2 linked regions of the Homo sapiens genome follow. The protein of the gene in region 1 interacts with the protein of each later gene in a pairwise test. Each region holds a gene or a part of one and is shown on either strand. Other genes may lie near its edges.

Region 1 (2,941 bases):
ATATATAAATAGAACAGATATTAGCAGTGTACTTTTTGAAATGGTTCATTATCAGTAATACTAATTTATGAAATCTTTCCAGGAACTGGTGAAACAGAAGGTGAAACGTCAGTTGACAAAACAGCAAAAATCAGCTGTCAGACGTCGATTGCAGAAAGGAGAAGCAAATATATTTACCAAGCAACGTAGGGAAAACATGCAAAATATCAAATCAAGTTTGGAAGCAGCCAGCTTTTGGGGAGAATAATATATTTAGGATCTTGGATATGTTTAATATATTTTTTAAAGTTACTGTAATTCCTTTTTGAGCCCTCATTTGTCTTTTTTGAGCCAAGGCTATCATATATTAATAAATAAACCCTCTTTCATCTATAAATTTGGTCATTCAGTATGTGTCTTGCAAAGAATAATTACCTGCCAAAGCAGTCCATTTTTTTCAAAGTAATTTGGGTAACTACAGTTACGTAACTTTATTAGAGACATTTGCATATTTTTAAAAATCTAAATAACATTTTTGTTGTTTTCTGTTTGTTGAGGATGATATGCTACAATGCACATAAAGCAATTAGAACAATGTTTAGCACATTCTTAAGCATTCAATAAAACATGGCTATTAGAATCATAATGATTCTGAAATTCTGCTGACAATTTGGTTGCATTTTATTTGGCAACTGGAGGACTTCACTGTCTTATTTTTCTTTAGAAGTAAAGATAAGCCTTTGGAAGTAAAGATAAGCCAGTGATGCACAATTTGCTTAATTAATTGATTAATAATCTGTTTTGTGCCACTTACATTGGTAATGTGGTCATGAGAATGGAAACTTACTTGAGATAGTCTACCACAATTTTTACAGTTGGCAGCTTGTAAGCAGGCCTGAGTAGCAGAAGAGTTAGGGGTTGGGGAAGGTGGAGTAGAATGAGGAATGAAATGTTCTTTCTCATATGCTTATTATATAAGTGGGTCCGGAACATGTTCTCACCTCAAGGTTAACAAATACCTAATGCAGGAAAGAAAATACATAGCCATGGTCCCTTCCTCAAGGACTTTATAATTCAGTGAGATGTAAAGATGAGTGCTTAAGTGTATGCACCTGATTATTGTCTCTTCATTGCCGCATAAGTCGGAAAAGGGGATCACTTGCAGCGAAAAATGGCCACTAGATGGCAATATCACCCCATAGTCACCAAACAGGATTACTTGCATCCCTAATTATGTTCTACCAGAGGGAATATAGTACAGACTTTTCCAAGATTGATAAAGACAGCAGATTCCCTTTCACCTTTGCCAAATTAACTCTACTAGCTATTTGCAAGACCTGTAATTATCTAATAAATTGGCTTAAATATATAGAAGCTAGAAAATGCCAATTCCTCTTCCCTCAAAAGTTACCTGACATTCAAATATTTAAATACCCTTGCTTTGCATTTTAGATATATCTTTGAATTCAGGTATTCATTTTGTATAATCTCTCAACTTTTAAGCATTTTTATAATGTAAAGTTGAAAACAGCTTAATAGAACCACAGAATGTTTATTTTGGAGTCATTTTCTTATATTCAGAGCTATGAAAGCAAATTGGGAATAAAGCCTTATCCTGCTCAGCTTTACCTAGTTGACTCAGTTGACTTTTGAGTATCTACTACATAAAAAGCCCATTACTATTAAGAAACTCAAGACAAACATGATTTTTACCTTTAATAGCCTAAGATTTCTTGTGGGCCAAGGAATTAATTATTCCAATCAGAAATGGAGGCCTTACCTCATTTGGGCAAAGATTAGTGCTAGTTATTGAAGATTTACTAATAAATGATCTGTTAAGGAATTTAGTTTTTTTTGGATATGTTGTTTTGGTTGTTGAAAACTAAGGTATAATTATAATAGTTATTTTTTGAAGATATGTTTGGCTAGCCATCAATTAGAAGTTAGAGAGTTTGTCCTAACAGATAAGCTATAACCCTCACATTTTAAAACATGCATAGTGAACAATGAACAAAAACAAATTCAAAATTTTACTAATGTAAAGCTGTATATTGTGATTGTTAAAACACTTTTTTTTGCCTAGGAGTTCCAGATTTAAATCCTGGTTCTACACTTCCCAAACCTCAGGTACCTTCTGTGGCCTCTCTAACCTCAATTTTTTTACTTGTAAAATGGGGACATTTAATAGTATACCTCAGTGTCGTGAAGACTAAATGAAGTACCACTTGTAAAGAGTTTATTACAGTGCCTGACATATACTGTATGGTTAGTACTGCTAAAATGACTTCTTAAGGTTACCAAAAGGAAAATTCCACAAGCTGACCACCTTTCCTATTGTGATGGTCACTGGTATTTCAGCTATGATCCTTTGTTGTGTATTTATCCAGACTGAAAGATGTTTTTCTAGTAACCATCTTGCATCGTCTTAGTCTCCCCATTAAATAAACTTTTCCTACAAACTATGCGGTTTATATTTGTGCTAACTTTGTGGTATTGATAGCCATTGGTCTGTTCTTTGGCACATAGCTGGCTATCTTTGAGGTTTCTCCAAAACCATAGATGTTTAATGGATACTAATCAGAGTTAGTGCAGCTCGAGATAATCATTCTTTTAGCCAACTGCTTAGTAAATTTTCTGACAAAATACATAGCTGTCTAATTAAAAAACTCTGCCTGATGCTGCCTTCCAGGTTGCTACTTACAAAGGATAGAGGGATGAGTTATGTTAGGTTCTCAGAGCACTTTCTGAAGTGTAGGTTTATTTCACTGTCACAGATTCAGCACTCTGGGTGGGCTACAGTTCGCCATGCCCAGTCTTCTTTATCCCTCCTTAGAACATCTCCCTAGAGAGCATCAGGCCATATCTTAATTCGCCCTTGCTTTAGTTTATGAAGTACTGGAGCCATCTTATGCACCTGTGTAAGGAGGCTGGAGATTAAAGTTCAGAAAAGCCATGGGTTACA
Region 2 (4,011 bases), on another chromosome or scaffold:
GCCACCCTGCCTGCGCTCAGCCCGGCCCCTCCGCCGCAGCGCCTCGGAGTTTGGGGGCTACAGGGGAAGAGGAAGCGTCTGGTCGGCTCCCGTCCGAGCTGCTCCACCTGCGCCGCTGGCCTTTCCGCCCGCTACGCACCTGGGCCCCGAGAGGCCAGAGGGGAGTGTCCCCAGTGGCCCGGGTCCCCGAAGGTGGCCCAGCTCGGGCGCTCGCGCAGCCGGGTACTCACCTTGGGGGCGCGGCGGCAGGAGAGCGCGGGCGGAGAGGTGCGGGCGCCCTGGGACGACCAGCCGAGGACGCCTGGTGTTTGGACGGCTGCCCCCGCGCTGTCCCCCCGTGCGAGGCGTGTTGGCCTCCGTGGCCTCGCGAGGGACCGAGGGCGGCGGGTCCGAGTGCCGCCCGCCGGCCTGGGCAGTGGCGGAGCGCGGAGCTGGCGGCGCCTCCGCTGTTGTTTTTGAGCCGCGAAGCCCGAAGCAGCAGCCGTTGGGTGGGGGCGAAGGGGAGGAGGCGGGGGCCGGGAGGCGCGAGGGGGGCGGTGGGGCCCGGAGGGGGCTTCGGAGGAGCCGGGTTCTGGCGCGCGAGCCCCGACGCCCCCTCCAGCGATCGCAGGGCGGGGACGGGGGCCGAGGGGAGAATGCAGGAGAAAAGCGGGCCGGGGCGACGGGGAACGCAAAGCTTTTAAATTAGTAATCAAACGCAGTAAAACGGAGCAAAACCAGCCCGGACTCGCGTCCGAACTATCGGCGCGTGTGCCCCGAGATCCAAGGAAGTCGTGTGGAAAACCGCAGCCGCCGCCCCATCTTCGGCCCCGGCTGGGGCGGGAGCAGCAGCGCGACGCGCCGCGACGCAGGGGCAGGGTGGGGGGATAGTCACCTCGCCTCCGGGGCCACCTGGGTCCTTTTAAAGTGTCCGGGGTGCGGGCCCCGGGCGGGAGCGCCGAACACGGAATGTTTTCTTAAAGGGCCAGTTCCGAGCTGCGCTGAAAAGGGGGGGGGGGAGAGGGGGGAGAGATAAGTGAGACGAAGACCGAGAAGGCCGAGGAGAGCCCCCCAATCCCGCGCCGAGGCGGCGGCGGCGGCGGCGGCGGCGCGACGATGAGGATGATGAATACATTGCAAAGTTTTTTTGGCCCCGGCGAGGGGTGTCAGATTGAGTGCTCTGTGCGCATGTGCGAAGGTGTCCAAACTGACAATGCTGGGGAGATGAAGATAGTGTGTGGCTGCTTCTGGACTCAAGGAGGAGGAGAGAGATTCCGCGAGCCGACACCATGCGATCCAAGGCGAGGGCGAGGAAGCTAGCCAAAAGTAAGTCTCCCGCGCTCGGCCGCGCCGCGCCGCCGGGGCCCGGGCCGCCGGGCCGGGGCGCCCGGGCCAGGGGTGCGCGTCGGGGCGCGGCCGGCGCGCCTGCGGCTCCGGGCCCCCGGCTCGGCCGCGCGGCCCGGGGGGCTGCTCCGCCTCCCGCGCTCCGGGGCGACCGGGCTCGGCGCGGAGGCTCGGGGCGCCCGGGCCGCGCGCTCCCCGAAGGCGCCGGCCCCCTCCCCGCGGAACCCCCTCCCCCCCCACCAGTGTCAGGCGCTCGGGCCCGGGAACCCGAGGCGCGCGGTGGGGGCCGGGGAGGGGGGCGGAGGGGGAGGGCCGGGGGTGGAGGGGAGCGAAAAGTGAAAGTTAGCGAAAAGTTGACGAAAGGGGAGAGCAACTTTTTCCTCCCCGCTCGCTCTCTCCCTCTCTCTCTCCGAGTGGCTCTCAGTCCTGGTCAAATCATATTCCGGGCTTTTGAAATAGTGGGCGCTAGAGCACCGCCTTTGGCGTCCGCCAGCCGGGCGCAGAGGAGGGAGACCCCGAGCCGGGGAGGGGCGGAGGAGGGGGCGCGGGCCGGCGCCCACCCGGCTCCGCGGGCGCAGGGGCAGGGGTGGCGACGGCGGGACAGCCGCAGCCACTTGGGGAGCAAAATGGAGACTTTTGCCCGGGCTGGGAACTGTGGTCGTGAAGTTTATCCCCGGCTGTGCCCCGCGTGGTGGAGGGCGCTCCTCTGGGACGCCGGCAGCCTGCGCGGGCCGCCGGGGCGACAGTGCCTCCGACAGGAGGGACCCACCCGGCCACCTCCCGACCCGCCGCTGCCGCCCTCGGGCCCGCGTGGACCCCTCTGTACCCGCTTGCCTGGCACAGCCGGGCCCGGCGGGGACAGAGCTGCCCCGGCCAGGCTGCCCGGTCCTCGGTCTTACTTTCTCTTTCGCTCCGTCTCGGCCGAGCCCCGGGCTCCGCGCGCCCCGCCTGCCGCCAGCCGGTCCTTGCCGCGGGCCGGGTGCTCCAGCCACCCGCGCCCTCGCCCGCCACAGCGCCTCCGAGCAGCCCGCGCGCACCCCGCAGCCCCGGTCGCCGGCGCCATCCGCGGTGAGGCGGGCGGGCAGGTGAGGACAGGCGGAGCCGCGGCCCGGCCAGCGCGGCTCCCGCAGCCCCGCCGAAGCCCCGGCTGCAGCGAAGCGGCCAGCGCCGCGCGGAGCGGAATCGGCGCCGCCTGCTCCCGCCGCCCCCTCCTCTGCAGGCCGCCCGCCCGCCCACCCGCAGAAGAGGCGCCCGGGCCGCTCCCCTCGAGGTCCCCGCCCGACCCACGCCGTTCCGTCCGCGCCTCCGGGGCCGGGTCCCTCCAGGCCGGCCTCGCAGCTCCCGGGGCCGAGCCCCCAAACGTGAGCCGGGTGCGCGCGGGACTCGCGGCGGTTTTCCGAAGCTCCGCTCCCTCGGCTCGGGGCCCGCCCGGCTCGTCCCAACAGCTGCCCCGCGGCCGTAGGCCCCGCGCTCTGTGCACCAGGGAAAAGCAGCTCCCGAGTTTGTGCCGGACGCTCCTGCGCCCCGCCATCGGCCGTTCCCGGCCCCTGGGTGAGGCGCCCCCTTCCCGCCGCGCTCCGCTGCCGGGTGCCCTCGGCCTCGGCCTCCCGTGACCTCTGACCCCTCTTGGTGCGAACAAGACCGGGCGTTTCGCCGCCGACGCGAAGGGGCTGTCTGTGCGCGGCGTTGCGGGCCCTCCGCGCGTGGGGTGTGCGTGTGCGTGTTCGGGTTCGGTTCTGTGTGTGCACCGCGGGCCTGCTCAGAGTCGGGACCACCGGGCTGCGTGTGGGCCGCCAGGTCAGGCCCTCGCCCAGGATGGGCCCTAAGCTGGAACGAGAAAGGGGAAACCGGCCGCGCTGACGCCGGGGCCTTCGCTGCAAGCGAGAGGCGGACTCGGCGCACCCGCGCGGCCCTGGAAACTTCCGAGAGGCCCCAGCTCTCCGCCGGCTCCACCTCTGCCAGGTGGGGAAGGTGGCCCGGGACCGGGTCCGCTCAGGACCAGAAGTGGTGCCTGGCAGCCATCTGGCCAGGAGGCCGGAGAGCCGGGCCCAGCGGGAGCGCCGAGCGCTGGCTTCCTTTTCCCGAGAGTCTTTAGTGAGGAAAAACCCCATGAGAGGTGACTGCCAGGCCTCGGCCCTCTGTCCACACTTGGCCGAGCGCTGGGAACCCCTCCTTCCAGGCTCCACAGCTGGGACCGCTTGTCCCAGGCCCCCCAAGGTGGCTGAGGCAGGTTCAGGATCACACTGCCTGCCCTGAGCAAGAAGGCAGGATCCGCTGAAGAATTTCATTTCATCAGGCGATATTTTAAGCAGATGTGAACTTCCCCGGGGACCATAGTCCATTACCCGAGTCAGAGGCGGTAGGGCCAGCACTCCAGCCAGCAGGTCCTCCCCTCCCCACAATGCTGACCAGGTCAGGGGACTGTGGGGTTGGGCAGGGGCAAGGTCATGGTTACCAGGTTGGTATTCAGGCTGGGCACAGAACAGCAACCAGGCCAGTGGAGGTGACCCCATGACCCAGCATTTCGGGGGCCACCGCCGAGTGTGCATCTGGAGGTGTAATTTCGTTTGTGTTTCCCTGGAGACCCCACTCCAAGCCTCAGTTCAGGTGGGTTAGTCCTCTGGATTGGGTCTTGTGAAGGGCCAAATGGTGGCGGCTCCGGGGGTGACCCGGGCTTCCAGCTGAGCT

The links.
Region 2: the proteins of RIOK2 (region 1) and PRDM16 interact in a two-hybrid assay, tested with the Homo sapiens proteins (one large-scale study listed by BioGRID).

What each region holds. Positions count from the first base shown.
Region 1 is NC_000005.10:97,160,367-97,163,307, reverse strand, and holds the end of RIOK2 (serine/threonine-protein kinase RIO2), read left to right. Parts: intron 1-82; coding exon 83-247; 3' UTR 248-2,441; downstream 2,442-2,941. UniProt on the Homo sapiens protein: Serine/threonine-protein kinase involved in the final steps of cytoplasmic maturation of the 40S ribosomal subunit. Involved in export of the 40S pre-ribosome particles (pre-40S) from the nucleus to the cytoplasm.
Region 2 is NC_000001.11:3,067,992-3,072,002, forward strand, and holds the start of PRDM16 (histone-lysine N-methyltransferase PRDM16), read left to right. Parts: upstream 1-1,211; 5' UTR 1,212-1,268; coding exon 1,269-1,305; intron 1,306-2,222; coding exon of another isoform or gene 2,223-3,872; exon of another isoform or gene 3,873-4,011. Other genes in the region: translation initiation factor IF-2, read right to left, coding at 957-980, 2,223-3,872. UniProt on the Homo sapiens protein: Binds DNA and functions as a transcriptional regulator. Displays histone methyltransferase activity and monomethylates 'Lys-9' of histone H3 (H3K9me1) in vitro.